Linked DNA regions of Homo sapiens: regions 1, 2, 3, 4, 6 and 7 are each linked to region 5. A link means that fine-mapping ties the variant in region 5 to the plasma level of a protein whose gene starts in the linked region. Region 5 holds a variant in brackets. A gene starts in each other region. All regions are shown on their forward strands.

Region 1 (4,470 bases), not on the chromosome of region 5:
TGTCCGCCCCGCCCACCGGTGCCCGCCCCGCCCACCGGTGTCCGCCCCGCCCACCGGTGTCCGCCCCGCCCACCTGTCTTCGCCCCGCCCCCTGTCTCCGCCCCGCCCCCCTGTCTCCGCCCCGCCCCGCCTGCTCACTTGTGTCCGCCCCCGCCCCGCCAGCCCACCTGTCCCCGCCCCGCCCGCTCACCTGTGTGCGCACTGCACCCCGTGGCTGCCTGCCGGGCAGGGCAGCTCGCAGCGCGCTCCGCGGAAGCCGGGCGGGCAGGTGCACTCGCCGGAGGCGGCGCTGCAGCGGCCCCGCACACACTCGCACTGCTGCTGGCATTCGGGACCCCACCAGCCCGGCCGGCAGGCGCAGCGGCCGGAGTCCTGCTCGCACGGGGAGCCGTGGCAGTTGCAGCGGAAGCTGCAGCGGCGCCCCCACCAGCCCGGCTTGCACACGCAGGCGCCCGTGGCCTGCTCGCAGCGCGCCGCCGCGGTGTTGCACTGGCACGGGCGGCGGCACGTGGACGACCACCAGCCGGGTTCGCAGTGGCACACGCCGGTCGCGGGGTCGCAGCGCCCGTGGGGGCCGCAGGCGCACGGGAACTCGCAGCGGGCTCCCCAGCGGTCGGCCTGGCACTGGCACGCGCCCGTGGCTGGCTCGCACTGGCCGTGCGGGTGGCAGGGGCAGCTCTCACGGCAGTCGGGGCCCCAGTACTGGCCCGGGCAGCCTGCGGGGGTGGGGACGGGAGGGGTCAGCGGGCTCAGGGCCGCGCGCAGACCCTTACCCTGCGTCCCCTTCCTCAAGGAAAAGGGGCGCTGGGCCCATCCTCCAAGAGCCGGGGACAGACCCTCAGAACATCCGGCAGCCTGTCCTGGGCAACACTCACTTCCTGCTCCGCTCTGACCTACAGAAAACCCTTAGCCATTAGTGGGAGGCTCAGCCTGCCACTTCACATTCCAGAACACACTCAGAGATCCTGAGTGGGCAGGGGACTTGCCCAGAGCGTGGCACCGAGGTTGGTGGGCCTTCCTCCATGCCTGCTCCTCCCTGCCGAGATGGATCTCTGCTGGGCTGGAGGAGAGCTGGCTTTCTCCTGATCTCAGGCCTGGATACTGCCCGCCAGGGTGTCGGGAGAAGCCACCTTTCCCCTAGTGATTCCTTGATTCCTGATGCCCACCCTCTGGCTCTCCTGCTTCCCAACCCCTTTCCCTTCCCTCTCTTTCTGCCAGAGAGGGCAGAGAGCCCAGCCAGGGGCCCCCTTCCATCCACTGCCCATGTATAAGGTATATGTGGGAAAGGCAAGTAATACACTCATTTTACAATGAAGGGGAATCACAGGTTTTCTGAGAAGTGGAAGAGGAAGATGCTCAGGTGGGCAGTGCTTTGTGGATGTGGGTAAAAACCCGGTGACTCAGGTCATCTCCCGGGAGTGTGTGTCACTTCCTGTCTCTGGACCGCAATTCCTCAGTGAAGCTGGGGGGGATTCTGGCCCTGCTGTCCTGAGGCTGCATGGCTACCTGCCTCGCCTGCTCCCACACCACTGCCCCCGTACCCAGCTCTGCCCAGCAACTTCATCTGGCCCTTGAGACTCACGGGAGCTGCAGTGGGCCCCAAAGAATCCAGGCTTGCATCGACAGAGGCCCGGCTTCACACACACCTCGTCTTTCTGGCAGGCGTCCGGCCCCTCACAGATGGCTGAAAGACACCCCACCCAGGTTGGAAAGACGGGAGCAGGACCAGGGGACACCCCTGCCCTCTCACTGGCTCCAGGGGCCATGCCTCCTCAAGAGGTGCCCCTTCAGGCCTGGGGGTGCGTCACAGGAGAAACCCTGACTCCTGGTATCAGGAGGGGCAGGCCCCATGGGGTAGGAAGGAAGGGTTGTCACTGGGCTACGGCCTCCCTTCTCCTTGGCTGAGGGTCTGTCCTGGCTACTCACGGATGGTGCATTCTTGATCCTTCTGCCTCCAGCCTGCGCAGCACTGCAGCTCAGCAGAGGGGCTGTGGGGCAAAAAGGGGTCAGCCGGACATGGTGGGGGGTGCAGCCTGGCCCTGAGGAAGGTGGATCACTGTCTCTGGCTGCAGTGGGGGAGGCTGCCTTAGCCCCCTGGGGAGGCCTAATGGATCTTTACAGCTAGGGTCCCCAGCCCCTCCCCTCTCCTTCCCTGACCCTTCCACCATCTGCCCTGGCTGGCCACTACCTGCCAGACCGCCATCAGCAGTCCCTTCCTTTCAGCCTAAGCCCCCTTCCTAGTCTCCTCCTTCCCCTAACGGCCTCAACACCGGTTCAGCCACCCGCATCAGACTCCCACGAGACCCACCTGCTGGCCACACGCATCAGACTCCCACGAGACCCACCTGCTGGCCACACAGACGTGCTGCCCTTTGGGGTCCAGCTCGGACCCCTGAGTCCCCCGAGTCCAGAGCAGCAGCAGCGGGAGCAGCAGCCCCAGCCCCATGGCAGGCAGCTCGGTGGGAGCGCTCGGGTTCGTCTGGCCCCCACAGCTCCCAACCCCCTCCCTGCTTCCTCTCAGGGCTTTTCCTGAGGAAACCAGGCCGGAGGGGCGGGCTGCCACGAGGCACCTCCCTGAGAGGGAGGGGGTGGCTGGAAAGACTGACACTCAAAAAAAGAAAGGGAAAGAAAGGCAATGGCAGGGCTGACTGGCCTGGGCCTGGAAGGGCCAGAAGAATGAAGTTGCAGGTCCCTGGGTGCCGGGGCCAGGGAAGGGGGTGGACTGAGGCTGGGAGCCACGGCTTTCCATCAGGCCACACTCCCAAAGCAAGGCCTGAGCTGCAAGAAGCCACCCCACCCAGTGACTGAGCAAGGAGACCAGCGAGGACCCCTCAGCCTGCCTCTGCTCCTGGCAGGGTTGGGAGGTGGCACAGACATGGACAGACAGGCGAGGAACAGTTTCTGTGTATTACGGGCAGTTCTTTATTACATGAGCTCAGGCCGTCTGCACAAAGCCCTGGGAGCTAGGCAGTCAGCTCTCATTTCATGGATGGGGAAACTGAGACTCAGAGAGGCACTCTTATATCTGGCCCCAGAGGCTCGGTACAGAGACGTAGAGAGGGAGGCGGGCTGAGACCCCGTCCTGCCCTGATGCAGGCCAGGATTGGGGCAGACCCCTGGCGAGGGCTGTGAAGGCGGGAGCCCTGTCCTCATTTGAGGCCACACATCCTTCCACAGCCAGACCCCTAAGTCAGGCCTCTGGGGCGGCTGAGGCCCCCAGACAAAGGTGTTCGTGGAGGGCAGAACAGGGCGGATCAGGAGCTGGAGACTGTGGTTGGGCCTCCTCTTCTCCCCCTAGCTTGCTGGGTGCAGGGCTGCTGGTCTCATCCTCAGAGGATTCAGCTTTACCCCGATACCATAGGCCAAAGCTGGAGAGAGACAGCCAGAGGCACTTTGAGCCAGGAAGCCAGAGAGGTCAAGGATATGGGTGAGGGCAGGGGATGGTGAGAAAAGGGGAGAGGGGGAAGAAAGGGCAGCCTGAGGGAGTGTGAAGGTGATGGGGGCCAGGGCCAGAGAAGCAGGAGGGGACGGTGTGCTTAGAGCCAAGCACAGCAGGGTGACGGGCAGAGAAGCGGGAAAGGGGATCCTGAGAAGGACCAGCCAGGGCCCTTCCTCCCTCCCCACACTCTTGCCTTTCCCCTTTCCCCAACATACAAACTCTGTATTTTGGACTCCGGGGGTGGGGGATGGTCTCCCTTGTCATCGGAGAGCAGGATCCATGGGCCAGCCTCATCCTCACTGAGACAGAGGAGAGAGGAGAAGTGAGGGCCATTGATCAAGGCCCTGAGGGACAACAGGAATCCAGCAGGGGGGATGGAGGGACTGCAGGGCCCCCGGGGCTGGAGAGAAGGCAACCCTGGGGAGATGCAGGATGTCGAGCCTTTAATTTTTAATTTTTTTTTTTTTGAGACAGGGTCTCACTCTGTCGCCCAGGCTGGAGTGCAGTGGTGCGATCTCAGCTCACTGCAACCTCCGCCTCCCAAGTTCAAGCGATTCTCCTGCCGCAGCCTCCTGAGTAGCTGGGATTATAGGCACATGCCACCATGCCCGGCTAATTTTTGTATTTTTAGTAGAGACGGAGTTTCACCATGTTGGCCACGCTGGTCTCGAACTCCTGACCTCAGGTGATCTACCCACCTTAGCCTCTCAAAGTGCTGGGATTACAGGCGTGAGCCACCGCGCCCTGCCAAGGGTTTATTTTATAGCTTGACACACAGCAGGCCCTGACACAGCCGCGGCTACAGTTTCACCCCCGTAAGAATAAACAGACCCAGCCAAGACAGGAACTTGAAGAATGAATGTGGAGAGGCAGTGTTGTCAGGCAGAATGGATGGCAGGCAAGGCAAGGGGAGTGGTGAGATCCAGGGAGAAGGGCGCAGGCTGGACAGCGGCCATGGGACACAGCCAGAGCAGGTCAGCAGGCCCTAGAAGCGGCCAGGCTAGGGAGGCTCAAGGGGTGACCGGGTTGGG
Region 2 (4,404 bases), not on the chromosome of region 5:
AATAATTACTAACATTTATGTGTGGCTTATTTATGACACACATTATTTTAAATACCTTAAATTTATTAACTTTTTTAATCCTTCCATAAACTCTATGAGGGAGGCAATATTATCCCCATTTTAGGGATGAAGAACCTAAGGTACAGAGAAATTAAGCAACATGACCTGATATACACAGCTAACAAGTGGCAGAGCCAGGTTACCTCATTATTCAAACTCCAGAGGATGTTCTTTTAACCAGATCATATCTATCTTTTAAAAAATTGTTTAGTTCATGCATGGAAAACACTTAGTATTCCTGGCATATTAAAATGATTAATAAATTGGAACTGTTATCATACTACATTAAGAATGACACCGATCATCAATTTAGTAACTTTTGTTGTTCAAACTGTGAAATACCAAGTATACAAAAAAGAGAGGAAAATTAAAGCTTTTTTTCCCCAACAATCCTGTTAAAATTAATAATAGATGACAACAAGTCAATAGCAAATTTTTATTTCATGTGAATATTTTTGTAAGAATAGTGTGGGTATAAGTTTTAGGGTTTAAAAAATGAATGAAAGTTCTGTTGATGAAAAAAGTAGAATTTAGAATTAGGAGTCTAGTAAGGTTGAAGTCCTATATTGTACTTATTTATAAGGCTCATTCTAATGATAGAATTATAACTATGTAGATATGTTAATTCATTTTCATCATCTATTTTTGTTCTACTAGTGGCAAATATATTCACTTTAAACCAGCTAACCACAGTTTATAAGATTCATATTCACCAATTTATTATTTTAGTGTTTGATGGCTAAAATAAACATCAGAATAAACTTTCAGGGAGTATTTTAAATAAGACATCCTAGGACTAAGACACTGAGAGACTCCATTAAGTTCCTAAATATATTAACAAAAATGTATTGAGCAAATATTCTCTGTTGGGCTCCATGTAATTCCTATTATCATTGACCATTATGAAATCTAATAATACCCATGAGTATGTCTAATAACCATAAAGTAGACCAGGAAAAATCAACCAAGTTGTGTTAGAATAGAAATTTTTAAAGAAAAAAATGCAAAGTACAGTCCAATGTTTAGGCAAGAATTAGAGGGTTGAAACCAGGCTTATTTATTTTCATCTTCTTTCTGCCATCTTTTAACCAACCTTCTCAGAATAAAATGTGATTTTTGAGACAGAATGAAACACATATCCAAATTTTAATACAGTAAGAATAGGTATCCTGAATAAATGAGAACTCTAGAAAATCAAGGTTTCAAAATTCTACCCTTCCTGGGAGTTAAAGAAGTTTGGCAGAAACAGAACAAATTAATCAGCAGATTCATCACCTGCCAATTTTTTCTGTACAATTTTCTTGATTCTGGGAGCATCTGGGTCCAGGCAGATTTTCCTCCCATCCTTCAGTGTGGCTCTGCAAAAGAGAACAGGGTTATCTGTGGGTGTCCTGATCTGAATATCAGAACTAATCCATGAGACTGGAGGAAACGAGTGCATATGTGGATGGAGGTAGAGGGTTTCTCTGATAAGGCAATAGCACAGAAACAGCAACTTACATCACTTCGACTTGGTTGCAATGGGTTCCTTTCCCGATCACTTCCAAACTTTGGATGTTTTTGGGATGAATTCCAGAGGTTGTCTTTATACACATGCAGCGGAGTTCAGCATACAAGTCACTGTCTAGACTTTCCTCTAGGGTAGAAAATGTGACCTATTGGTGGTCATGAATATTTTCCTCAGGTCTCTTATTTGCAGATTGAGGGCAATTGTACCTCTCTCATAAAGCCATTGTGAATATGATCTGTAACGCTTTAGTAAAGTGCCCAGAAGATTGCCCAGCACACAAGAAGTGAGAAGTGACCCCCCTGTGTGTCTCCTCCAATTGGAGTTATTGGTATAATGGCCCTCTCCAGCCCCAAAGGCACCAAGCTAGTCTTTACCCCAGAGACAGGTGTAGCAGAAGCAGCAACAAGTGCAGAGAAGCAGGGCCTCTACCTTTGCCTTTCGCCAAGTTTCTCTTAGTTTGTCCTTTGGTGGAGGAAGCCAGAGCAGTCAGCAGCAATGACAGAAGCAGCAGCACCTGCAAGGCATGAAGTGGTCTCGCACTGTTACAGGAAGGGGTGGTATCAAGTCTGAGGCTCATGGTGGAGAAGGCTGAGCTAGAGTTGTTTCCAGAACCAGAAGACCTCTGAGTGAGGGTGAGTTGCTGCCTACAAGTCTGCAGATAAGTGGCTTCTCATGCCCTGAAGATGTCATTTATATGCTCTTTCTCAAAGCCAGTAAGAAGGAAGAGGTAGGAAAGGAGGAAGTGAGGGTATGTGGTGATACACACATAAGCATTTGAAGCTGTGCCCAACCCAGAGAAAGACCAGACAGGTCAAATTCCTACTAACTTGCTTAATGTGCATCACTTCACATTCCCACTCTCCCTTTCTCAATACTTATCTTCCTTACACCTGTGTAAGAACTCCGTTCAGGAAGGTAAGAACTAGACTGAAATACTACATGCATTTTCTTTGTATGATTTATAACAATACGCCCTGCCTTTTCTATACTGCAGTTTTTAGGCTTAATAGAAACTTTAGGAGCACCTGAAGGCACAAACATGTGGCCCTTGAAAGAGAAAGTTATCTTTGCTTGCCAAAGAAAGCAAATGTTCTTTTCATGAATGTTGATAAATATTGGGATTGGTTTGGAGCATGTAAGTAAAATAAGAGCCAATTACCGTCAAAGGTTGTCTTTGGATTTTAGCTTATTGGATTCTTTCTGCCTTCAATCTATATTATCTTTTGTAATTTCATCTAGAAACTACAAATGAAACTCATCCTCCTTTATATTACAAAAGAAGCTACTTGTTTCTACCACCTAAGAATACCTAAAAAGTAGGACCCAGCATATTTATTTTTCTTTTTATTTTTAATTTAACAGAAAAATTATATAATTTATTGCAAAAGATTCGTATGCTGCAGATGTCTTTGAAATAAAACACAAATTTCTCTTCATCATTTCTCCACATTCCTACTATTCAGTGGTAAACACTGGTAACAATTTTGCATTAGTTTTCAATTCTGTCTGCACTTATATGCACACATGTATATGTATACAATGAGACACGTTTAAGACATAGAGGTACACATATACATAGAAGTATTGTATATGGATCACTATACAGCTGACTTTTATCCTTCAAAAAATATGTGTTCCTTATCTTTTCAGGTCATCTTAATGTAGTTTTCCCCCATTCTTCTTAATGACCATGTGACGTCCTGTGATAAGAACAATAGTTACTCAACCTTGCCTTGTTGGTGCCCTTCACGGTGTTTCCAATTTTGCACTATTAGAAATTGTGCAAGAAATGTCCTTACCAAGGAAAATATTTGTTCCTGAATTCTCAGACCCAAATTAAAGGTTTTGGTCTGAAATGCTATATCCCTACAAAGATAGAGAGGTGGACCTACACATTACATGTTGGCTTTATGTTATTTTCTGGTTCTCTGTCCCATCTGTAAGACTTCCTTCCTCAATTGAACCATGCACTTTTGTAGGGAGTGGCATGTCCTGTGTTTGTTTGAATGTCTCATGTATCCTATAACATGTAGGATACTTCAATATAAAGTAGGTCTTAAATAATTAATAAATCAATGAATACGTATCACATGAAAGCTTCCCTATCCTTTCTAATCACCTACAATTCCAGGCCAAACTCGACAGGACCCAAAGCAACTATGCTATTTAAATTTATTTGGAAGATTGTCAATAAAGAAGAGGCAGATGTAAGTGGCACTGGCAACAAGTTTTCTTCCTTTTACAACTATGTATAAGTCTCACAGAATATTATTTAAATTTTCCATATTCTTTTCTTACTTTTCATATCCTTAAATTTTAGAAGAAATGCTTAAAATACTAAATGTTCAAAATTACTCTCTATCAAAAAGATGAATATAGTAATTTTTTAAATCATGTTTTTGTTTTCAAGCCAATTTTCCCTATTGTTTAATAGTTATCTACTATGTCTACTCAAGTTCTCAGGTCCTGTTTTTAAATGCGATAACCTACAGACCACATTTGACAGTTTACTTTAGAAGTAAGCAGACTTCCAAATTAACTCGCCCTGGAAAGGTTTCGTGACTTGATGGTGACATTCTATCTCTGAGTAAAGTATTTTATTACGAGTTCCTCAAATGATTGATGTACTAATTACTGTAGAACCTACTGACACTAAATAGGACAATGATTTATTTCTAAGTTTAGCTGAAACAAAAAGTTTTATTGATTGTTTTGTATGTAGACATTTAGCCTGTATGCTGTAATCTGTAGCTAATGATTTTAACTTCGGTATTGTACCCTCCAATGAAAAAGAAGACAACTCTGGTATGAGGAGTTTTTCTGCCTTATTTTAA
Region 3 (4,470 bases), not on the chromosome of region 5:
GCCCGATTCACAGGTCTCCGCGAGGAACCAGTTTAAATAAATACGGGCAGCGTTTCAGCCCCATCTGGAAGCCATCGCTGCCAATCTCCCAATGCAAACAAGCCTCACAAAGGAGGATTGAGATCTCTCCCCTGAGCCAGGGGCACTTTCGGAGGCGAGGGCTCTGAAATGCAGATGAGGGTCAAAGACGCCGCCGCCAGTAAGTTTCTCAAACTCGTGGAAAGATGGAGAGGAGGGGTGTGGCCGAGCTCTAGGTGTCTGACATTCCTGACGTCCACGCAGACTGCGCATTTCCCCACGTCACACCTTTGGGTCCGCTGACCCCAGGCGGGGGAAGTTATAAAAGGTGGGATGCTCCAGGGCGCAAAATCAGCCTCTCGGATGCAGAATCACACTCCCTCTGGGAGGAGGAGCGACTGGAAGGTTTGGGCCGGAGAAGCTGTGGAATCACTCCCTCCCAGGAAAGATGCGGCGATGAGAGAGCTCTACCGCCTAATTAAGCAAGCGACCCTAATACCGGATGGAGAATTTGAGAATTATTTTAAAGCCACCCAGCTAATTCCATTGCGCACTAAGGCAGGGGTCAGTCAAGAAGACAGCTTTGTGGGCGTGTGCTTGTAAATGTAGTACAAAAATATAGTCAGTCTGAGTCCAGGCCACGTATAGTCACGCTGTATTCCTCAAATGCCCAGGAGCGCGCCTCCAGCTTAGCGCACTACCGGGTGACCCGGCCAGAGTCTCCTGCTCCCGGCTCCTCGCAGCTGCGCCGCAGGCTCCAGCCCTGCCCCCGCTGCGCTAATGACCGGAAAGCCCGCCTGAGCCCGCCGCCTTCCACGCTATCCCTGGAAACAGCCTGGTGGCAGGAGAGGGCCCACAGAGCCTCGAAGGCAGAGAACTTTTATTCCCCCCGCCGAAGAGTTTCCCTCTGCGATTGATTTACAATCTGTAACATACAAAGACAGGGCTGGAATCCCAGCCGTCGGAAACGTGCCCAAACACGTGGAAAAAAAAATCCTCTCTACCTAATACACTTTCCAGGCTTCGTTTGTCCTGAATATAATCCCAGACAGTGGACCTTACCAAAGGAGGGGTAGAAAGGTGCAGTCCGAACAGCATTTGGACCCGACTACAAGAGCCATCTCTAACTATACCGGTTGAAATAGTTGTAGCAACCGTAGCAATCGACCAGCCTGCTCCCCTTCCCTGACACACACATACACACACACACACGCACACACACACACACCACGCAGCCTGGCTCGGTGAGTTCCAGAATTTAGAAAAGTAACTCATTGTAGTACCTCGGGGCGGCGGGGAATGGGGTAAGACCGCGGGGAAGGGGGCGCTATTTTCGGGGGCATTTGAAAAGCACGGTCTGGTTGGAATGTTATCGTCTTTCAGATGGCCTCTCCTACTGGAAGTTTCTGTACCCTTTATCAGAAGAGAGGCGCAGGCGGACGGAGGGAAGTCGAGATGAGCGCTAGGGCTGCACCTTGCTCCAGGGCCAGCTGGGAGGGGGAGGGTACCCTAAAGAGGCGCTGAGGTCTCAGAGGGCCTATCGGAAGCCGTTCTTTGTGGCCTGGGATTTCAGCCCACCAGTGTCAGAGTGTTAGTCCCCTTTGTCTAACTCTGCTTTGAGCCCACCAGCCACCAAGCCTTGGACAGGCTGTGAAGTCAACCCTTTGGCGTTTGCTTGCTCCCTCGCTCGCGCTCTCTCTTTCCTACTTCACCTAAGTTCGATGAGTTGAGATCTGTTTTTGCTGAACTCGAAGTGCTTCGAAGAGGCGAGCTGTGTGCATGTGCGCCTAATTATCAAAGCTGGTGGAAAAGAGCCCATTTATATCTGTGCGCAAACTTCTCCGAGCCAACACTTTGCAAGTTCAGTATTCTAGCGCAACGTAGGGACCTGCAAATACTTGCAACTGCGATGGGCACCGAGGACCCTGGGACAGAGTCCTTGATTGGCAGAACTCTTCTTGGTGAACTTCTGCGTGTCCTGTGCCTAAGTCGGCGCGCTACGACCCCGGGAGCCGTTTTAGCCCGGAGCCGCGGGCTCCAGAGCTGGAGCGGGCCGGGGAGAAGGATGCTGAGGGACGCATGGAAAGCAGGCAGGCAGGCAGGGGCGGGGGAAGACTTACGGACATCCTGGCCCTGACACCGAAGGACAGCGGCGACGAGCAGCGTCAGCAGCACCAGCGTCTGGGGAGCCCCGAGGCGAATCATGGCTCACCGCGGGGCCTGGCTGAGCCGGGCCCGGGCGGAGCGCAGCGAAACGGCAGGAGCACGGCGCGGGTCCGGGTCTCTACCGCGCCCTCATGCAGGAGGCCCTTGGAGCAGGAGGGGGAAGCGGGAGACCCGGCAGCCCAGCAGCGCTCTGCGTCTTCTCCCCGCCGCGGCGCCCGTTATATGCGCCCGGCCCCTTTCGAGGCTGGCGAACTCGCCCAAACCGCGGGCCGCCCCCTGCCCCCCGCTGGGCTGTAACCTGAACCGCCCGCCCCCGGAGCCCGCCTGGGCCCTGCCAGTGCCCGCACCTGCCCAAGCCGGACCCCCCTCTCTGGGAGTCACGCTTCCCGCCCTCCACCCCTAGTGCGCCGAGTGGCCTGATCGGGCGGGGCGCAGAGATGGCCCCTGCCCCCCAAACCCGGGGCTGCGGCGCTGCCCCCCTCTGACCACAGGCGGGAAGGGTGGCCTCCGGCCCCTCCCCTCGGAGTTCTGCCGGAGTTGGAGGGGAGGGGGTGTTTGCAGAGGCGCAGGCCGAGAGCCCTAGACCAAGGACGGAAAAGACATGGGAGGGAGGAGGGAAAGCGGTAGAAAGGAGCAGCGGAGGGCGAGGGGGCACCGCGTCAGGCGTTTGGGAGTGGGGACAGGGAGGAGCCCACAGAGATTCAGAGTCCTAAATCTTGGAGACAGGCTAGCTGAGCCAGATCTGAAGGGTTACCCCGACCTATCTTTTAGCCCTTCCCTGCAGTACCTGGTCCCCAGACTCCCACCTGGACGTTCACAGCGACTGCCCTCCACCCCTCCCCCATCCAGCTCTGCGTTGAAGGCTTCCTCTGGAGCACAGGCCGAAGTTGGCCTGAGCCGACAGCCAGGAAAAGAGCTGGTGTGTTACTGCACAGAAGGAGACCTGTGTGAAGGTGTGGGGGGCAGGGGCAGGCCCTGGGAAGGGGACTGAAAGAGCCACAGAGGACGGAGGGAGCCGAGACTAAACGGTGCAAGCTGCCTGCTGTGGGGGGACTGTCTAGCTCCAGGCTCAGACGTGGTGTCTGCTCTTCCTGGCTGGGGTCCGGGAGTCCCCCGGGGAGTGGGCACTGCCGGCCGTCGTAGAGCAGCTTTGGCCAGGGACGGTTGGTCACTGCTGCGGCCCTGGCCAGGGATCGGGGAGGCCGATCCAGCTGGCGAGTTCTGTGAGCCGGGGAGAAGCGCCAGAATTTCCCAGTCGGCCCCCTAGCCCTCCGCTTGCCGCCTCACCTCACCTTCCCCGGTGAGCGCCCTCTCTCACCTTAGCCAAACTGCCTTCTTCCCAGGGCTTAGCTGGTCTCTTCTCTTGGTCTCCGGTGCCTCCTTTCATACCAGGGAGGAAACGTCCCCAAACAGACCTTCCTTTTGAGCGATATGGTCCCCCAAAGAACTATAGGCAAAATGAAACTCAGAATTTGGGGTCTGACTTAACCAGAACTTCTGCCCTCCTGGGCAGTTTTGTTTCTCTGGAGCTTTCCCCCTAGAAGCTGAGAGCACTTGAAAGAAGCTACTTCTGGGCCTTAGGCTTCCACCAGGGGTCCTGGGACCCCATCCCTAGCCTATCATGCTTTGACACTTGTCCTGGTAGAGGCTGGAGTTCCAAGTGCTCTGGTTGGAAAGGGAAAGAACTCATTGTTGAAGGAAATGCTTCTAGGCTTTGTCCAGTCTGGATGGAGATGGGGAAGAATTCAACCAGTTTCCAGCATCTCCCCTACCTTCCACGGGCCTTGTCTGAGTCTCCATGCTCCCATTCAGGGGCTTGCATTAAGCTCTGGGCTCTTCCTCAGGCCCAATCTCTGCTAGAAGAAAGCTGGTCTCTTGCCATCAGTGCCCCATGTCCTCTTTGGGGCTCAGAAGGTCCTATATTCTCTACCTGGAAGATAGAATGACCAAATTCCACACATTTATCAAGACCTCCTAGGTTAAAGCCCCTCTGAGAAGCCTTCTCTGATATCTCTAGAACACAACGTCTCCCTGGCTTTCTGAATCCCCCTGGCATTTATAGCCTAAGCTACATATGTTTTTGTGTAGTTTTAATTTTTTCCCCTTATATCCATTGGTCTTTATCTCATCAATGAGCTTGGAAGATGCTTGGGGACAAGAACTGTGCCTAGCACAATTCTAACACATAGGAGTTAGGAAAGCCCCTGTGGACTAATAATTTAGATACAACTATAAAGGCATTTATACAACTGACTTCAAATACAAGTTGTCATAAAAATTCAACAG
Region 4 (4,381 bases), not on the chromosome of region 5:
ATGCTGACCAGCCTGGAACTGCCAAAGCCCTGAATTCTCTCACATTTTCTTGTGATGAAAGCATATGGTGTGCCGGGTGCAGTGGCTCATGCCTGTAATCCCAGCACTTTGGGAGTCCAAGGCGGGTGGATCACCTGAGGTCAGGAGTTCGCCACCAGCCTCACTAACATGGTGAAACCCCGGCTCTACGAAATACAAAAAAACTAGCAGGGTGTGGTGGTTCATGCCTGTAATCCAAGCTACTTGGGAGGCTGAGACAGGAGAATCGCTTGTACCTGGGAGGCGGAGGTTGTGGTGAGCCGAGATCGCACCATTGCACTCCAGCCTGGGCAATAAGAGTGAAACTCCGTCTCAAAAAAAAAAAAGAAAGAAAGAAAGAAAGAAAGAAAGCAAGAAAGCATATGGTGTCTCCTTTTTGTCAGGACTCCTCAGTGAATCGGACATGGATTTGGTGCCACCTACCCCTGCTGAGAGCAGCAGGACATGATATGTATACACACATATCTTAATTAGCCTTAAATTCTGAGCAACCTTGGTTGTTAGGTCAGAGAAAATCTGGGATGGGGATAGAGAAGGAAAGTATTGTGGCTTCAGCCTGGAGAAGAGAGTGGAAAATGGGATGCAGGGCCTGGGTGAGGAACTGGCAAACGGGCGCAATATGTTGAGGGGTAACTTCTGCGGTGGGGAGTGGGGCTGGGGAGGGGAACTGCACAAAGCTGTAACTGGGACCACTAGAGGTCAGGATTAAAAGGCGGTATGGGAGAAATTAACCTCTATTCTTTCCCTATCTACCCCCACACATAAAGCCACTGGAGCTTTTCTCTGGACTCCAAGTCCTGAAATACTCCATTATCTGAGGCCAAGAGATGGGCTAACAGTTCTGGGACTTCCTTCCTGAGACCAGCTGCCCAGGAACGGGCACCTGCTGGGTGATGCCCACCTTAGGGGCTTACCTTGTCTTAGGCGCCCACTAACATATCTGTCTCATAGCTCACACCTGCCTCCCTGCCCCCTTGGCAGAACCCCTTCCGGTTCCTTCACAGGACCCCCCACATGGCTTCCTCCTCCTTTCACAAGTTGTGCAAAGAGGCTTGCACCTGATTCAATATTGGGATTTCCTGTAGGTCTGTCAACATGAGTGGGCCCTCCTCCCATTACCCTCTCCTTGCGCCCTGGCTTGCCTGGCCCAGCTTCCCCAGCACCAGATTCAGAACCTTAAGCTAACGAGGAATGACCAGCTAAGAATGGGGATTGGGGCTGTGTCCATCTTACTACTGTGTTTGCTAAGCCCTAAGTGCAGCTCCCTCTCTTATTTTCTCCCTGGGCTCATGTCCCCTTTCCTTAGGGCCAGCCAGGGCTGTGCTGTATTCCACCAAGTAAGTGATCAGTCCCTCAGAAACCAGCACCCCACCCCCTACCCCTGCTCTGCCCTGCTCCTCCCATTCTGGGAAGGCTACACTCTTCTCGACAAAGGTCAGTGCCTGTAGGTTCCAGTTTGCCTGCCCCTCCCCCAGCTGGGAGCCCATTTCTCTTTGCTGTCCTTTCTACCCTCACATAACCCCACACCCTGCTGGCCACTCACCGGGTGGAGAAGGGCTCCAGGACCCAAGTGCACAGCAGGCAGCCCTCTGGGGAGCAGATGGGTAGGAAGACATGTGGCGGTGGGGCACAGCCCCTCCACAGCAGCAGGTCATACGCCTGCCTGGGCCACTTCTGCCCAATCAGAGAAGGGAGCCACCAGACACTGGTGAAGGCCCCCGGAAGTGACGCCTTCTCTTCCCTGGAGCCCCTGCCTGGACCAGGGTCCACTCCTCCACCCACACACACCACGGAGAAGATTTGGATAGGGGGATCCATCTTTTCCTGGACATGGGCAACCTGGGACCTGGAGGGGGACAGGAGCAGAAGTTTTTTTCCAGGAGGAATCTGGCAGGACATTTGTGTTGCTGGGGAAGAAGCACAGAGGTCTTGTTTAAGATTGGTGGGGTTTTCACTCCCTGGCTATCCAAATTTCTTTTCCCTGGACATCATACCTGCTGCTGAAATCCAACAGGATGCTTGCTTTCCTGCTTTTCTTTCTGTAATCCCCTAGGGAGTCCTATCTTGTCATTCCCCCTTTCGAAGTGGGAACACGGATATTGCCCACATGAGAGAAATCTCCTGTTATGGGTTGGTGTTATGGGGAAAGGGTTTGGACGGGTTGAGTGGACTGTCAGGTGCGGGGCACATGTATGTGCGCACACGTGCACTGGGTTAAGCCTGAGCTTAGGTGCTCGTCTGCTGGGGTCCAGTGGCTTAGATGGCTACACACACAGACCTCTGTGCCCAGGGCCCTCCTTTGCTTGTTCTGTCTCCGTCTTCCATCTCCTACCGTTCCACATGTGACAAGAGGAATAACCAGGCCCATGTGTCCCTGTCTTAGGAAAGACAGCTGCTGGACCTCCCCCGCAAATACCTCCCTGCTGGCCCCCCTTTTCCTTTGGCCCTGGCTCTAGCTCCTTTGCTTTCTTCCCAGTCCCAGTCTCCCCACAGTCTCTGTCCTCAGGGGCTTCCTGGCCTGACCTTGATCCCATCATCCCCCTGTCCCCCAGAACTTCCTCAGGCTCTCTCCTGTTCCTCCTCCCCAAGGATGGGCATGTCTGCTGAGAAGTGTGGCCTAGATCCTGGAATTTTCCCGTCCAGCCAGACGAGATGTCTCCCAAGATTAGGAAGGAGGGTGCTGGGATAGCTGGGAGGATAGTGGGTGTGTGTGGGAGGGAGAGACAGGAGACAGGGAGGCAGGCATGACCAGGGAACCAAGAGAAAGGAGGCTGGGAGTGGGCTGGAGAGGCAGAGGGTCCCTTGGGTGAAGGAAGGGGGTGAGAAAGCAAGAGGGGACTGTCGAATGCGCCTGAGGATAAGTTACAATGAGAGGGAGATACTGTCACTCCACAGAAGGGGGAATGCTGCCGGTTTCTGGCTAGGTCCCTGTCCTGGGTAACACAAGAATGAGGAGCGACCTCAGAGAGAAGGTAGGGAGGCAGGCTAGGCAGTGAGAGAGGGTGGTGAGGGTTTGGGGGGCGCTGTGGGCCCAGGCAGGGGGAGATCGGCTGATGGACCTTTCCTGTACGTTGTCATCTTTAAAGACAAGTCTTCATCCTTCGGGCGGAACCGGGTCCTCGCTCACAGAGCGGTCCAGGCCTCAGGCCTAGCCTCTGCCCCTCCCTAGCCTGAGGCTCCCTTCCTGGGCTGGACACCGACCTCCTGGTCCAGCCGCCCTGTGGCCGCCAGCAGCGGGGGGCTCCGGGCCCGCCTCTCCTCCCCCTCTTCGCGCCCCCTGGTCCCTCCCCTCCCCCTCCCCCGCTCCCCCTTCCCCTCCCGCCCCTCCCTCCTCCCCTGCCCGGTCCCAGCCCCTCCCTCCCCTCCCCCACCCGCGATCCGGGCCGCTGCTGCTGGGTCGGACCCCCCGGGCTCAGCCCGGCCCCTCGCCGAGCTGCCGCCGCCGCCCCGTTTGCTGAGGAGGAGGCCCCCGGCCGGGGCGTCGGGCGCGGGGCATAAAACGGGCCGGAGCCGGCGCCCGGGGCAGTAGAGCCGCGTACGGCCCGGGTCAGCGCCCGCCCGCCCGCGCTCCTCCCGGCCGCTCCTCCCGCCCCGCCCGGCCCGGCGCCGACTCTGCGGCCGCCCGACGAGCCCCTCGCGGCACTGCCCCGGCCCCGGCCCCGGCCCCGGCCCCCTCCCGCCGCACCGCCCCCGGCCCGGCCCTCCGCCCTCCGCACTCCCGCCTCCCTCCCTCCGCCCGCTCCCGCGCCCTCCTCCCTCCCTCCTCCCCAGCTGTCCCGTTCGCGTCATGCCGAGCCTCCCGGCCCCGCCGGCCCCGCTGCTGCTCCTCGGGCTGCTGCTGCTCGGCTCCCGGCCGGCCCGCGGCGCCGGCCCAGAGCCCCCCGTGCTGCCCATCCGTTCTGAGAAGGAGCCGCTGCCCGTTCGGGGAGCGGCAGGTAGGTGGGCGCCCGGGGGAGGCGCGGGCGGGGAGTCGGGCTCGGGGCGAGTCAGCGCCAGCCCGGAGGGGGCGCGGGGCGCAGGTGGCTCGGCGCGGCGGGCGGCCCGGAGGGTGGGCGGGGGCAGAAGGGCGCGGTGCCTGGGACCCGGGACCCGCGGGCAGCCCCCGGGGCGGCACACGGCGCGAGCTGGGCAGCGGCCTCCAGCCAAGCCCGTCCCCGCAGGCTGCACCTTCGGCGGGAAGGTCTATGCCTTGGACGAGACGTGGCACCCGGACCTAGGGGAGCCATTCGGGGTGATGCGCTGCGTGCTGTGCGCCTGCGAGGCGGTGAGTGCACCCCGCGGCCGGCCCGGGCCCTGGCGGGTGGGGAGCGCCGGGTCGCGCGGGCGTCGGAGTGGACTCGGA
Region 5 (4,470 bases):
TAACACCTCCGCTTCCCTTCCTCTTGGTTAGGATATAAGATGTGTTCTATATTGTCTGTTAGAGTTTGGCAGTGGAATTGAGCTCTGATTGCCTTGATAGTGAACATTTTGTGGACCTCTTCCCTTTCCTGCTTACTTCGCCACAACCTTACTGGAATTTTCTGGGATCAACTTCCCAGTAAACTACTTGTATTTGAATCAGTCTCAGGGTAAGCCTCTGGGGAATCCATACTAAGACAGCCTCTAAGATGTAATAATGAAATAAATTTAAAAGCAATATCCAAATTATTATTGAGATTCTAGAGGACATAGAATTATTTAATCTTTATTATTCAATTTTGGACCTCTACTACTGGTACATAATCGGTATTCAATAACTGCTCTTTAAAATAAAAATCTAATCGAATTGAATTTGCTTATCAGGAACATTCTCACTGACTCCACCCATATTCTCCATCTTTCCCATCTCAATGGCATAATTTATAATTTTGCTGAGGCATGACTTTTTGTTGAGCCTCAGATTTCATTGATGTTGACATTGTGAATGATATCTTCCTTCTTAATATTCATTTTAATCTGGGCTCAGGACTACCATACTTTCCTATTTCTCATATCTCTCTGGGTCTTAGCTCTTTTTAATTTAACTGTGAGTGTTTCCCAAAACACTTCTGGCCTTTCTTCTCTTCTCCCTCTGTTCCCAGTGCCTCAGGGAGCTTATCCACTTGCAAAGCTTCAGCTACTAATTTACAAATGACATTTAAATAAAAAAATCTCTAACCTTGGCTTTTTACCCTTTCTCTAATAGCACATTTCAACTGTTTTGCAAGCTTTCCCATTTAATTCCTCCAACTACACAGTCACAAAGAGAGTTTATTCCTGTCTCCACAGACAGCCTCTCTTTTCCATGACTTCCAGCTTTCAGTCACCTTTAATCCTAGTCCTCTGCCTCTCCTTTCGTACCTCTGCAGGGAGTCCATTCTCTCAATTATCCTGTGTCTTTTCTGCATTTCTACCTCTCCTTCTCACATCTCAAATGCTATTCACACACAGTTACACATACCCATACCTCTCTCCTTTTGCCTGTAACTACTACCATCTCTTTTTCCTTCTATTCAGAGTCAAACATCTTCCAAGACTCTCCATTTCATGTCCAGAAACCAAGCATCATAACTCCTGCTTTCGTAATGATTGTTCTCCTCTTTCTGTCCTGCTACCACTGCTTTAGTCGAAAGCCCCACCGCTTCTCTCTTGATTATTACAATATTCTTCTGTTCTCTCTTGTCATCTTTTTATTTACTCAGACCACAGTATGTCCTGAAAGCAAAACTACAGTAGTCACTTAACTCCTGTGCTTTAAAATCATTCTAAAGGGCACGAGAATACCCCAAGGTTTTGGTAAAGCCTAAAAAAGGCCTTCCTGTTACTCACCTCCCCAGGTGATGCTCACCTCCCCAGTTCTGACCCCTTTTCCACTCTCTTATAGACTTTAGGCATTCTGAACTACATGCAGTGCCCTGAATGTCCATTTTTTTTCCACATCCGTACATTTGGTCATGCTGTTTTATCCTCCTGGAAACCCCTATTCCCCCCTCCCCACCTATCTCTCTTCATCTCACTAAGTCCAATACTTATTTAAAGACTCTGCTCAAAGTCACTTCCAAGGTAGACCTTCTCTGAAGCCTCCTGTCTGGAATAGATAACCACTCTTGGAGTATTTCCCTGGTGCTCTAGGTTTACTAGGATAAGAGCACTGATCACATAACTGTGAGCTCCTGTTTGCTTGTCTATCTCCCCTGCAGACCATATGCTTATTATCTATTTTTTATCTTTCTATCCTTCCCACTTAGAACAATGTCTAGCTTATACTAAGAGCTCAATGAATAACATTGAATGAATCAGCACATT[A/T]ATTTTTTCCTTTCACTTTTCTCCATATCAGGAACAGCTGCACACCCCTCCTTATTCAAGACCCTGCATCCTTCCTGAGGCTTTACATCCATGTCTGTTTCGTCTGTGATCTTGCTTCATCTGCCTAACTCAGCAGAGCAATTACCACAGGAAATGCTATCTTGTACCTGTTTTATTTGTTTATAGACTTGCACTTTTATTTTAGTCTCGTTTGAGAGGAAACTTCAGTAGGACAAGATAACTATGTCTATTTCTTCAGTTTTTATCTCATAAGGAGATATGCCCATGATGGTTTCTTGAGAAAAGTTGACTAATTTCGGTGTAAGATTTGCAACCCTTGGATGCAGCTAGGAGGATGAGGTGTTGCGCCTAGTGAGGCAATTATGATTTGTTTACAACAGACTCAGTTTTAGATCCCTCACTATGACATGGGTGAAGGCCAAGAAGGTGTTCTGCTCTACCATGCTTTCTGTGAAGTCTCATCCAGCCTCACACGTTCCAGTGACAAACCATCTGGGAAATTCCATCTGTCTCTGCTTGGAAACTGAGGTGGCAGTCGCCCACTGTGAGCAATTTTCTATTAACTTCTTGGATAAGATCAGTCAGATTTATACTGAATTGATGGGAACCGTAAGAGCAAGATTGTTCCAAGAGAAGACAAATGTACTGATTCCTCTAATTGGGCTTAAGCCAGTTTCATTCACAGACGCCCTTAGGTTCTAGTAGTGCAAGGACTTATAACCTTTTTAATTGTACCCTGTTCCTCTTGGGAAACATTGGTGAAATTCATTATTGATGGAGGTTGTAGATTTGTCCCTTAGGGAGGGCAAGATCCTGGCTTCTCTTATACTCTATCTGCTATGTGGAGAATTAATGGAAACTGAGTGGACAGAAAAGCTGCTCAAAGAAGACTTGAAGGCAAGAAATGTAATGCAGCAGAGCCTTGGAAAGTGATGCGTTGGTTTGGTTTCTAGAATTAGGGTAGGGTTTTTGTTGTTTTATTGATTTTTATTTTTATTTATTTTTTTTTTGATGGAGGGGGATTACTCAGGGAAAGAGGAGAAAGAAGTTTGTGTGGAGGCCTCAGTAATCAAAGGCCTGCTATTGAATGTGAGTCAGAAAGGAAGAAATTAAACACCGAAGAATTATTTCACAATTGAAATATGTAGAAGCCAGAGAGGTCAATTGCATATTAATCTGAAGGGATTTGCTGTGTTATAATGCAGATATAGTTATGATGTTGGCAGTGGATGAAAATACATTGTCATATGGCACAATGGTATTGAAATGAAAACCTGAATTTGTGCCCTTCCTGATAATTTTTACTTGCCTCCAAAATAATACCTTTTGTGTATAGCTAGCCTGTTAACCTCAATCTCATCCTGACTTACTTTTTCTCCTGATGGTGAAGTCTTTCCAGGTTCTTTACATTTGGACTTGGATTTGAAAGGTGGAAACACAATTCCTTGCTATACATAGACAATTTTATTTATGGACCTAACTTACTCTCCTCTGCCTGAAATTTTAATACATTTTGGCCTTTGGTTTATATGGCTAAACCTATTTACCCTTAGTTAGGCCAAGTTTGAACTTTTAAAAAGAATTATTTTTACAAGATTATTCATTGTTCCCTTTTCCCAGAACTCCAAGGAGAACTTTTGTTGAAGATGATCTTTTCAGTTATTAGGACGATTAGTGCTATTAATTTAATTAATTTCTGAAAGGAGGAATTGTTTATGTCATCATAAGATGATCAAAGCTGATCCACTCTATGTGTGTAAAGTTGAGACAAATGAGTCACATAACCTTTTCCCACAGAGGATCGGTGTGAAGGATGAAGAATCACTATTGATTTATAGCTCCAGATACTGTTTGTGGGAGTTGTGATTGTTCCCACACATAGGGATCCTTACATGAATTTTCTTAATGCAGATTTCATTGCTACTGTCATTTCTTCGTATTTGCCAAAAACAGAATCATGAAGGCCTAAGGTGGAAGTGGGTGGATATATAGCATCCCTGCCTCTCTAGGGAAATCTATCACCATCTTGACTAGTGAGGAAGTGGTTTGTAAAGCATAACTATTGTTTTTGTAACACAAATTCTAAAATATCAATCTTGAAATGTAGTTTTCCCTGGAGGGGAAGGTAGAAGTAACAAAGCACTGTGAGGAAGAGTTGTTCATGGAGTTGACCAAACTGTCCTCTGTTATGTGCTGATAGGTCTGGCATGCCTTTTAAATTCTTTCTATTTGATGTTTTTGAGGAATTGTCATTCTATACTGATTTCAAAACAATTAGTTTGGCAGGATATGCTTACATGGTTGTAACAAATATTGTGCCAGCATTATGAGGACTTAGCATCAATCTCAGCTTGACATGACAATTAATACATTCAGTAACTTGGAGATGATAACAGAGAGAATGGAGATAGGTACCAGTTTGTACTCCTTCAGTTTGGTCTTAAAAATCAAAATTACTTAGGGATAATGCTTTGTCAAACTCTGATAACATATTGGACTCTGGTTTTAATCTAATTTTCAATAAATATTCCCAGGATGGGATTC
Region 6 (4,470 bases), not on the chromosome of region 5:
AGAAGATTTATTGGATGACTGGGTAAACACAGAAAAGTCTGTACAGGGGAGATGGGGGAGGACGTGAGGAGATACTTATGACCTCTATTCTCCTGGTAGAATGGGCTACAAAGTCACCTGCCAAACCCGCAAGAGGAAAAGCATTGGAGATCGCTTGCATTGAAGATTACAGTGGGAGTCCGGTTTGCAACCCGGAAGGAAGGAGCTTGCGGGTTGGAGGCACTAAGAGTTTTCAGAAGTTGAGCATCTCAAGAGAGGGCAAGACTTGGAGGTACTTAGAGGACTTGGTAGCTGGAGTACATGGAAGACACTGGATTTGAGACAGTCAAGGAAGTGCGCATCTAGAGCGTCCCCCACATGGACTTTAGGTCTAGAGGAGGAGAAATAGCCCAAGAGCCAAAGTCCCCATGCGATGGGAAAAGAACTGGCTGGAAGAGGACAGCAAGGCTGAGATGCACCCAGGGACGTGGCCAGGTCACCACCTCATTTCCAACTCTACCACCTCAAACAATCTCTGACTGGTATTTAATCACCCTTGTGTGGAAGTGAAAATTAGCTTTTTTTGGAGACAGTACTTTTAAAATTAAACTAATATGAAGTTCATGGGACACGGAAATTTTCTGCATAGATTCATTTTTGTTTTTAGAATAAAATACGATGACATTTTCATGACCTTCAGTAATTGCCCTGCATGGTACGATATTTTCAAACATTATTTTAACAAAGAATCAAAATTTGGGGGTTAAAAGAAACCTTAGATTACTCAGGTTAGTACCTTCATTTGCATAGCCAAAAATTTTTCTATTGAAATACTGCAAATAGCAAATAAGTACTGATTTAGACCTTCAGATAGTGTTGAAACTGTCTTCAATTTTCGAAGTGTGGTTTAGGATATACAAATTAGCAATGTTGACAATTCTTCCAGTTATCTGTGCTCAAGTTTTGATATAAAATCTTCAAAGTACACAATTATCACATATATTGTTCCACAACAATTCAGACAAATAAACGGCTTCTTGGCTTGAAAGAGGAAGTCACACCTTCGAACACCTTTTTATGCTGATGCTAAATATAAGAACGTCCCCTGCAAAGTAGCCAAAGCAAGACAGCAGCATTCGAGATTTCTCCAGAGACACACACACAAAGAATGTGTTTCGTTCATTAAAACACTAAAACCTTCAACAGCATCTTCCATAATACCTGAAGGTGGAGTGCTGTCTTATGTAATAGAAGCCTTCCTTCCCCGCTCAGTTTGTGGACACATTAAATGCCTAATTCCTTCCAGAATTTCTGAGTACCGTACTTTCATTTTACCTGCAGTCACTCATCCGCCTCGCAACTCCCGTTTCTACAGATGATGAAAATAGCAAAGACCTGCTCGCTCGGGTTAAATCGGCTGCCAGAGGCCAAGTTAAAGGCTTTCCCCACACCGCGCGTCACCTCCCTCTGCCCAGGCAGAGGTAACAAGTAAGAGTGCGCCAGTCTCTCCCCATCCGGCGGCGCGCAGCCTAAGTCCGGGGTAGGGGTTGCCGGCGAGCAGCTGGAAACCTCAGGTTCAGGGTCAGGGCCGGCTCGGATGGCCGGGCAGGAGCCACGCCGGCCCCGGTGCTCCCAGCTGCGGGTATCACTGGACGCCACCCCGGGGCGGCCCCGCCTTGCCCTGCCCGGGTCCCGCTCGGGGCTCCCGGCGGGCGGGACCGGGATGCCCGGCGAGCACCCAGCCCCGGCCAAGGCGGCCCGCGGGAGGCTGAGAAAGTTCTCTGCTCCCCGACGTCGGCGCCCCAGGGTCCCGCTGGCCCCGCAGCTTCCCGGCCGGGCGCAAGGTCAGGGAGCAGGGCCGGTGGCGCGCGGAGCCCCGGGGAGCGTCCCCCGCCGAGGGCAGCGCCGGCCGCGCCCGGGACTCACCGCGCAGCCTGTACTCACCGCGCTCGCTGGATCCCCAGGGGGCGGCCGCGGAGGGCGGTGCGGCCGCAACCGGAGCGGGAGCCTGGTCTCGGCGGCGCGGGGAGTCGGAGGACGCAGCCAAGCGGCGGCGGCGAGGAGGGTCACAGCCGGAAAGAGGCAGCGGTGGCGCCTGCAGACGCCGCGCAGCCCGGGCAGCCCCACAGCGCAAGCTGGCTGCCGCGGCGGCGGGGGCTTTATCGGCGGCGCCGCGCGGGCCCCCGCCCCTTCCTGCCGCCCCCGCCCCCGGCCCGCCTTGCCCCGCCTTCCCGCCGCCTCCTTTGTGTGGCCGCGGGCCGCAGCGTCCCCGCGCCCGGCCTCCAGGACGCCCCCTCTCCGCCTGCGACTTCTCGGATGCCGCCCCGCCAGGGGTCCGTGTCGTGGGGCTGCGCCCGGAACGCGCCGGGGAGACGCGCAGACCCCGAGGTGCGGCGCCAGCCCGGGCCCAGCTGCACGTGGGTCTCCCGGATGGGGGTGTGTGAGGTGGCGGGGGGAATACCAGGGCTCGTACCGCGTCCCTGAGACGCAGGGCATGTCGTCTTGGCTGCCCCCTGGAAGAGACAGAGGGCGCCCTGAGACAGCGCTCAGTCCTCCGGGTGATGGGGAAACGGTGCCAGGACGCGGCCGGGAAGGGGCAGATAACCCCTCGAGGCGTTTTGCAGGGTGTCCTAGAGCTGACTTCTCCCTGCCTAGGGGACAGAGGAACGGCGGCAAGTCGCCTTAGGCAAATACAGACGAGGGGAACCAGAAAACTGGATTCCCGGCTATGGTGATAGCATGAGGTACCCGCAGCGTCCTGGGAACCCAGCCCTTCTCAGCCGGTAACCACTGCTGCTGGGACCCGGTGCGCGATAGACAGGCACATACCCCAGGGGCCTGCAACAAATGACCGTCCCGCTCCGGGCTCTGTTACCTGGACCTCTCTTAGTTGGTTCCTCCTTTGCCTCTAGTTAGGTTTCTGGGGACCCAAGGACCCAACTTTAATGACAGTAATTTATGTAGCCGTTAGTGTAGAATCGTCGCTAGCAGGCAGACGGCCCCAACAGCGAGGAAGAAATGTAAATCTCCCTATACACAGCCCTGGATTAAGGGTACAGCTACTGATGAGAGCCACTTGGAAGATCAGCCTGCAGTCACCCCTTGGCATGCAGGTGGCCGTGCCAGAGTGTGCACGTGTGTGTTGGGGAAGGGGTTGCTCTGAAAAGTGTAAAATCTGGACCAGCCTAAGGGTGTTCTCAGTCTCTCATAGAGGGAAACAGGCTATGGGAGGCTTGGTCCTAAAATAAGGAGCAAACAGTCTACAAAAATGAGCATCTGTTTAATTATTTTACAGTCATACCAAATATTTATATTCAGTTACAGGGTAACTTTCTTATTCTCTGTGCCTGAAATGCTTTTTGTCCCAGGATCTTCTATGTTGTCTGCATCCTTACACTTGAGGTCACAACTCAAATGTCCTCTCCCCTAGGAAGCCTCCCCTGACCACTTGAGATAAAGTCACTTTATCCCCTCTAACCTATGACTTCCTTCATAACCCTCATCATGAATTGATTTTTTTTTTACCTTGTTTCTTGCTAGTTTTCTTCTACTCTCTCTCATTGGAATATACTCCCAGAGACCAGGGAAGAGAAACTAATTTCAATATTGTTTCCAACTCACTCTATCCCTAGTGCCTAGAGCCATACCACACATATAGCAGTTACTCAATAAATTTTGTTGACGAGTGGATGAACTACTAGCCAAGTGACTTTTAGACATGCTAAGAACTGTTTCAGTGACAGTATTGTGCTTGGTCCAGTCAGGGCGGTGTGGGCTGGAGCTGGGAACAATTCAAAGGAGGGGGGAAAGCCCACAGGTGTGAATGAGCTCGTTCAGTGTGTTTGAAAAGCTGGGAGTATCCTCTTCCAGATGGAAGGGAGTCATTCAAGAAACTACTGGAGAAATAACTGGGAAATGTGGGTGAAGCCAGATTATTATGAAAATGTGCCAGAATCCCTGCATCCATTTCTGTCTCAATCACATTTCTAAATTAAAATTTGTAATAGAGGTAATTGTAGGCTGGCATGCAGTTGTTAAGAAATGATTCAGAGAGGTCTCTTTTACACTTTGCCAAGTCTTCCTCATGGTAACATTTTGCAAAACCATTGTATAATATCACAATCAGGATATTAACATTGATACGTTGATTCCTATCTCACACACTTTGGTTAATTATGTGTAACTTTAAATTTTTACTAAAGTTACTCAAACCAGTGAGAGAAATGCACAAAATTACTATTTTGAAGAGTTTCAGTCTCTTGTCTTGAAGGAGCCAATGTTTTTCAAGAAAAAACAACAACAAGCCTTTTTTGCTTTCCCAATTAGAGTGTAAATAGGGTCCAAATTCTTCATCTATGAAAGACGTTAGAAGTCCTTAGGACTTACCTCTTTGGGTTACACTTTAATGACTGACATTTACTTCCCCATTCTTTCCTGTAGTGTCGAAGGAACATTTTGAGCAATACTGTACGTGACTTGTCAATTCTGAAA
Region 7 (4,000 bases), not on the chromosome of region 5:
TGAGCTCCTCTTGGGGCCTCTCTGCTACTGGGTGCTCTGCAAGCTGGGTCCCTGTGCCCTGGATCTCTAGAAATGTTTCTCAAATTGGGGCTGCTGAACAGAGGGCAGCCCAGCCAAGTGAGGGCAGGAAGTGGGCAAGAAAGCAGGAAGGGTCTCACAGGGCCACCAGGGAGGGCAGTGCAGGGCAGGTGGCCCATGACAGGTGGGATGCTGGCTTGCCTGCCTGCCACCATCCTCTGTTCCTTCTGGAAGCCATGCCCTGCCATGAGCCATGGCCTTGGTGCTGAGACTGTCCATTCCACCTCCCATTCTCCTCCTCCCTCTGACTGTCACCTTGAGAAGCATCCACCCTGGGGCTTAGGGCAGCTGTGTCTGTGACATGTGGAGCCCTCCTCCTCCTCAGAGGCCCAGGCCAGCCTCCAAGTGCTGAGATAGCCAGCTGCCTGTGGGCACCCAGGTTGCTAAGGTATCTTCCAGGTTCAGCCTCCTCCTCTCCCTCTTATCCTATCACCCTCTCCTTCTATTCCATCCTGCCCACTGGGTCCCTGTGCCAAGCCCTCCACCTCCCTCCTGCCTCCCTCCGAGTCCCTGCATGACTCATACTTTCCCTGGGCCCTCCCTATAAAGTTTGGTTCCACAGGCTCTTTGAAGAGATCCAGCCTCTTCAGCTCTGGGCAGGCAAGAACTAGGCAACCAGGCCATGGGTACCAGGGCCTCTGCCCCCAGCCCGGGAGCCCCTGTGTTGGGGCCAGGATACTATCTGAACATGCTGACAGTCTGGACTTTGGAAGGGGAAAATGGTGCTTCCCTGTGTGGGCTTCTGTGTTTGAGCTGAGGAAACTGAGGCCAGAGAGATGCCGTAATTTATCCAGGGACCCAGAAGGGGCTCATAGCTGAGCTGAAGAGTGTCCCACATCCTCCCCAGTACTCCACACTGGTCCCTGAGTGGCAGCCTTGCTAGGATGGCAGGAATCAGCTGACCACTTATTCCTGGGCCATCAGACCCTTAGAATAGGGACCAGGTGGGCAGTGCTGCCTCTGTGTCTGAAAGTGGACCCACCGTGACCAGTGCCCAGTGCCCACCAAGGCTCAGCCAGGGGTTTCACCAGGGCATGGGGCACTGGCTGAGCATACCACGCCCTCTGTGTCCTCTGCAACACTAGAGCCCTGAGACTAGAGGGGCAGAAAGATGCCAGCTGTCAAAAGCCAGTGATATCCACCAGAACACACTGACCGCCCCCACCCTGTGCCTCTCCTTCTTTGCAGAAGCTACCTGTGCCCTGGGTTCTCTGGGCAGGGAAGGGCTGGACAGGCAGCCCTCAGGGGACAGCCCTGCCTGCCACTTGGGCAGCTGTCAGAGCATGCAGATGTGCCCGATGCCTAGCTGGGGCACTTGGCACAGTTGCCACTGCACCCTGCCTAGGGGTCCCAGCAGCCTCTGGGCGGTGGGTGGAGTGGGGTGCACGGTCACACAGGCTGAGAGGGCCCCCAGGACGCCCCCATCCCACAGTTCCCACTCCAGTCTGCTGTCTTCTCCCAGCTTTTTCCCAGCGCCCCGCCTCCCCCGACCTTACCTAGGGACGCAGCCAGGAAGAGAGCGAAGAGCAGGGATCCCCAGCGCCAGCTGCCGGCCTCCAGGGCCGTGGGGACGCCCATGTCGCCGTCGGACGCGCAGAGGAACTTCTGGTGCCGGGGAGCGGGCGGGACGCGGCCGGCGCGGGGAAGCCTCCCGCGACTGAGTGCGAGCGAGTGAGCGCTGCGGGCGGCCCCAGCGCCGTGCTCCAGGCACCCGCCCCCTTCGCGCAGCGCCCCCGGGGGGCCGTGTGGGGGAACTGCCTCTCCGAGGGCCGCGTGGGAGGGGCTTCCCGGAGGCCGGCCCCGTGGGTGGGGAGCCAGCGTGCGTCCCAGCGAGTCAGCTCCACTTGATCGGCAGTTTAAAGCCCGTTCTACCGTCCCCCAGTCCTTTTGGAGAGAAATTATTATTGCTGCGCAGCCTAAGAAGTAGATCTACCTCTAACAGCGTGATAGACGTTACCATGGCTTGCATCTGCCCTCAGCCACCAGCCTTTGAGTGATCTGGGGACAGAGACTTGTACCCTACATCCTCCAGCCAGACCAGGGCTTGGTATGTGGTAGGCACTCCCAGCTGTGGAATGAGTGAGTAAATGAGTGAATGAATGAAATCTGACATTGTGAAGAGCTAGGCAAGCTGGAGCCAGTTTAACTGTAGATTCAGAGCCTGAGGCACCCTGAGTGCATGCGCGCGCGCACACACACACACACACACACACACACACACACACACAGAACAGGTGCAGGACTACACGCCAAGATCAGCACATCCCTACCCCGGGACACACACAGATATGCAGGCAACACCTGTTGGCGTGCCCCACAGCACATCCTGCAAGCTCCCCTCCGGCAGAGGCCTCAGCTGTCCGCCTGGCTGTGCACCCGCCCTCCCTCCCTGGTGCCTGGATATCTGCAGGACACTCTGATGCACCCTAACTTCTAGTGCCTCTGCTCTTGCACCCACACCCAGCACTGCTGGCACCACTGGAATGTCTCTCCCCTCCTAATTCTTCTCATCCCTCAGGGCTCAGCTCAAGTCCTCCCACTTCACGAAATGTCCTGACCCTTCCTTTTTCCCGGCAAATCCTTACTGTCCACACCCCCTTCAGCTACCACCTCCAGCCTGAGATAACCAGCAGTTGGTTCTTCTTCCGGCTGTTCTGCCCTCCAGAGCGAAACTACAAACCTCTCTCTGATGTTTCTGAGACCCTAGCACAAAGCTGGGCGTGGAGAAGGTTTTACTGCACTTTTATCTGAATGGACAAACCAATGAGTGAGTGAGTGATTGTGTGATGGAGGAGCAGAGGTGATCGTGGCCAGGACCAGGGATCACAGGAGTGGAAGAGCACAGCCATTTTACTCAGTTTACCCCAGTCTAGCTGAAGCTTCCAGGGGTTTTTCTGGCACTTTAGGGATCTTGGGTTAATAGGTGACTCCTAGGCTGAGAGGCAGAGGACACTCAGAGTCTGACTGGGTCAGGAACCAGGGTATCAGGACTCAATGGGAGCCAGGAGTCCTGGGGGCCTTGTGGGTGGCCTGATCCAAGTCACGGGCTCTCTGGAGGCCCTTAGCCCTTGCTCTAAGGGCAGGGAAGGCTACAACAGAGGAAGGCTGAGGCATCATGTTATTACTAAGTGAACTTGTGCAGGCCCAGTCCCCCTGGAGCCAGTGAACTCCCCAGGATGGGAGCCCCAGAGGCTGGCAGGACATAACCCAGGTCCTTGGGCATGCTCCTGGCCTTGTGACCCCACCTTGGAAGGCAGCCCAGGGCCCTTCCTGCTGGCATAGCATGAGCTCCCTTCCACCAGGGGAGGTACAAAGCCAACTGAGATCAGGTGGACACCGGGCCCTTCTCACCCTGACATCCTCTGGCAAGTGAGGGGGGTCCCTTAAGGGCAAGATCCTAGAGCACCACCCCATCTCAACCCTTCCTGGACTGGCTTTGCTCAGGACACCCTTGAAACCAGACTCCCTCTTCCCCAGGGCCTAGCAGCCGGGGAGGGCCTGGAATTAGAGAAAGGGGAGCAATTGCCCTGCCAACCCCTTCCCCAGGGGGATAGAGCCTCTGAGCTGGGCCCAGTTCCCTCCCCCCTTTTCACTTCCTTTCTCCCTACCACACTGCCCACCACTGAGCCTCCTGGGGTTGCATCAGGGTGAGACACAGGCATTGCCCAAGGACCATGGTCCAGAAACCTCAAGCACTGTTTCCTCAACACCAGGGCAGGACAGGAAGGGCTCAGCTGAGAGGGCCTTTGGAGCACTGACTTTCTCCTCCCTCCGAGACCAGAGGAAGTCAAACCCACCTTCCCTCCCCAAGCCCAGACCTGGTCTCAGAGCAGGAGGGGCTCCAAGGCCCAACTCTGTTCAAACTCTCCACTCCCAGCCCCTGCAGCCTGCACACTCCATCATGTGTTTGTGCTTGTTTTCA

Alleles and levels. Positions count from the first base shown, and alleles are read on the strand shown. Strength reflects both the effect of a copy and how common the allele is.
In carriers of allele T in region 5, the plasma level of the protein whose gene starts at base 2,481 in region 1 tends to be lower than with A alone (moderate association).
For the plasma level of the protein whose gene starts at base 2,234 in region 2, allele A in region 5 goes with a higher level than allele T (moderate association).
For the plasma level of the protein whose gene starts at base 2,378 in region 3, allele A in region 5 goes with a higher level than allele T (moderate association).
For the plasma level of the protein whose gene starts at base 1,715 in region 4, A is the high allele of the variant in region 5 and T is the other (moderate association).
For the plasma level of the protein whose gene starts at base 2,111 in region 6, T is the low allele of the variant in region 5 and A is the other (moderate association).
As copies of T replace A in region 5, the plasma level of the protein whose gene starts at base 1,737 in region 7 goes down (moderate association).

What was found. PIP is the posterior inclusion probability: the model's chance that the variant is causal. The UK Biobank Pharma Proteomics Project read protein levels with antibody pairs (Olink). The fine-mapping took linkage between variants from a reference panel, not from the people measured, so its PIPs are less certain.
Region 1: it holds the start of SCARF1, and the variant in region 5 is fine-mapped to the plasma level of the SCARF1 protein (UK Biobank, PIP above 0.99).
Region 2: PPBP starts here. The variant in region 5 is fine-mapped to the plasma level of the PPBP protein (UK Biobank, PIP above 0.99).
Region 3: COL2A1 starts here. The variant in region 5 is fine-mapped to the plasma level of the COL2A1 protein (UK Biobank, PIP above 0.99).
Region 4: it holds the start of THPO, and the variant in region 5 is fine-mapped to the plasma level of the THPO protein (UK Biobank, PIP above 0.99).
Region 6: SERPINE2 starts here. The variant in region 5 is fine-mapped to the plasma level of the SERPINE2 protein (UK Biobank, PIP 0.93).
Region 7: VSIR starts here. The variant in region 5 is fine-mapped to the plasma level of the VSIR protein (UK Biobank, PIP above 0.99).

What each region holds. Positions count from the first base shown.
Region 1 is chr17:1,643,252-1,647,721 of GRCh38, forward strand. SCARF1 (scavenger receptor class F member 1) reads right to left here and starts at 2,481. Exons shown (of 11, transcript NM_003693.4): 1 at 2,346-2,481; 2 at 1,927-1,988; 3 at 1,583-1,684; 4 at 191-716. The coding sequence starts at 2,446. RILP (Rab interacting lysosomal protein) reads right to left here. Exons shown (of 8, transcript NM_031430.3): 7 at 3,655-3,738; 8 at 2,899-3,368. The coding sequence ends at 3,191.
Region 2 is chr4:73,985,957-73,990,360 of GRCh38, forward strand. PPBP (pro-platelet basic protein) reads right to left here and starts at 2,234. Exons shown (of 3, transcript NM_002704.3): 1 at 2,000-2,234; 2 at 1,561-1,696; 3 at 483-1,418. The coding sequence starts at 2,147. The coding sequence ends at 1,316.
Region 3 is chr12:48,002,099-48,006,568 of GRCh38, forward strand. COL2A1 (collagen type II alpha 1 chain) reads right to left here and starts at 2,378. Exons shown (of 54, transcript NM_001844.5): 1 at 2,139-2,378. The coding sequence starts at 2,223.
Region 4 is chr3:184,376,493-184,380,873 of GRCh38, forward strand. THPO (thrombopoietin) reads right to left here and starts at 1,715. Exons shown (of 6, transcript NM_000460.4): 1 at 1,583-1,715. CHRD (chordin) reads left to right here and starts at 3,562. Exons shown (of 23, transcript NM_003741.4): 1 at 3,562-3,974; 2 at 4,200-4,303. The coding sequence starts at 3,827.
Region 5 is chr8:105,567,395-105,571,864 of GRCh38, forward strand. All of the region lies in intron 4 of ZFPM2 (zinc finger protein, FOG family member 2), which reads left to right. Among named protein-coding and RNA genes, the nearest start is that of ZFPM2, 250 kb to the left of the region's middle. The variant A/T (reference allele first, on the strand shown) is at 1,906.
Region 6 is chr2:224,037,176-224,041,645 of GRCh38, forward strand. SERPINE2 (serpin family E member 2) reads right to left here and starts at 2,111. Exons shown (of 9, transcript NM_001136528.2): 1 at 1,924-2,111. It overlaps LOC124907991 (a long non-coding RNA gene), which reads left to right and starts at 2,227. Exons shown (of 2, transcript XR_007088103.1): 1 at 2,227-2,367. RefSeq lists a silencer at 2,277-2,571.
Region 7 is chr10:71,771,784-71,775,783 of GRCh38, forward strand. It overlaps VSIR (V-set immunoregulatory receptor), which reads right to left and starts at 1,737. Exons shown (of 7, transcript NM_022153.2): 1 at 1,575-1,737. The coding sequence starts at 1,656. The region is part of intron 38 of CDH23 (cadherin related 23); the gene reads left to right. RefSeq lists silencers at 1,537-1,616, 1,637-1,966.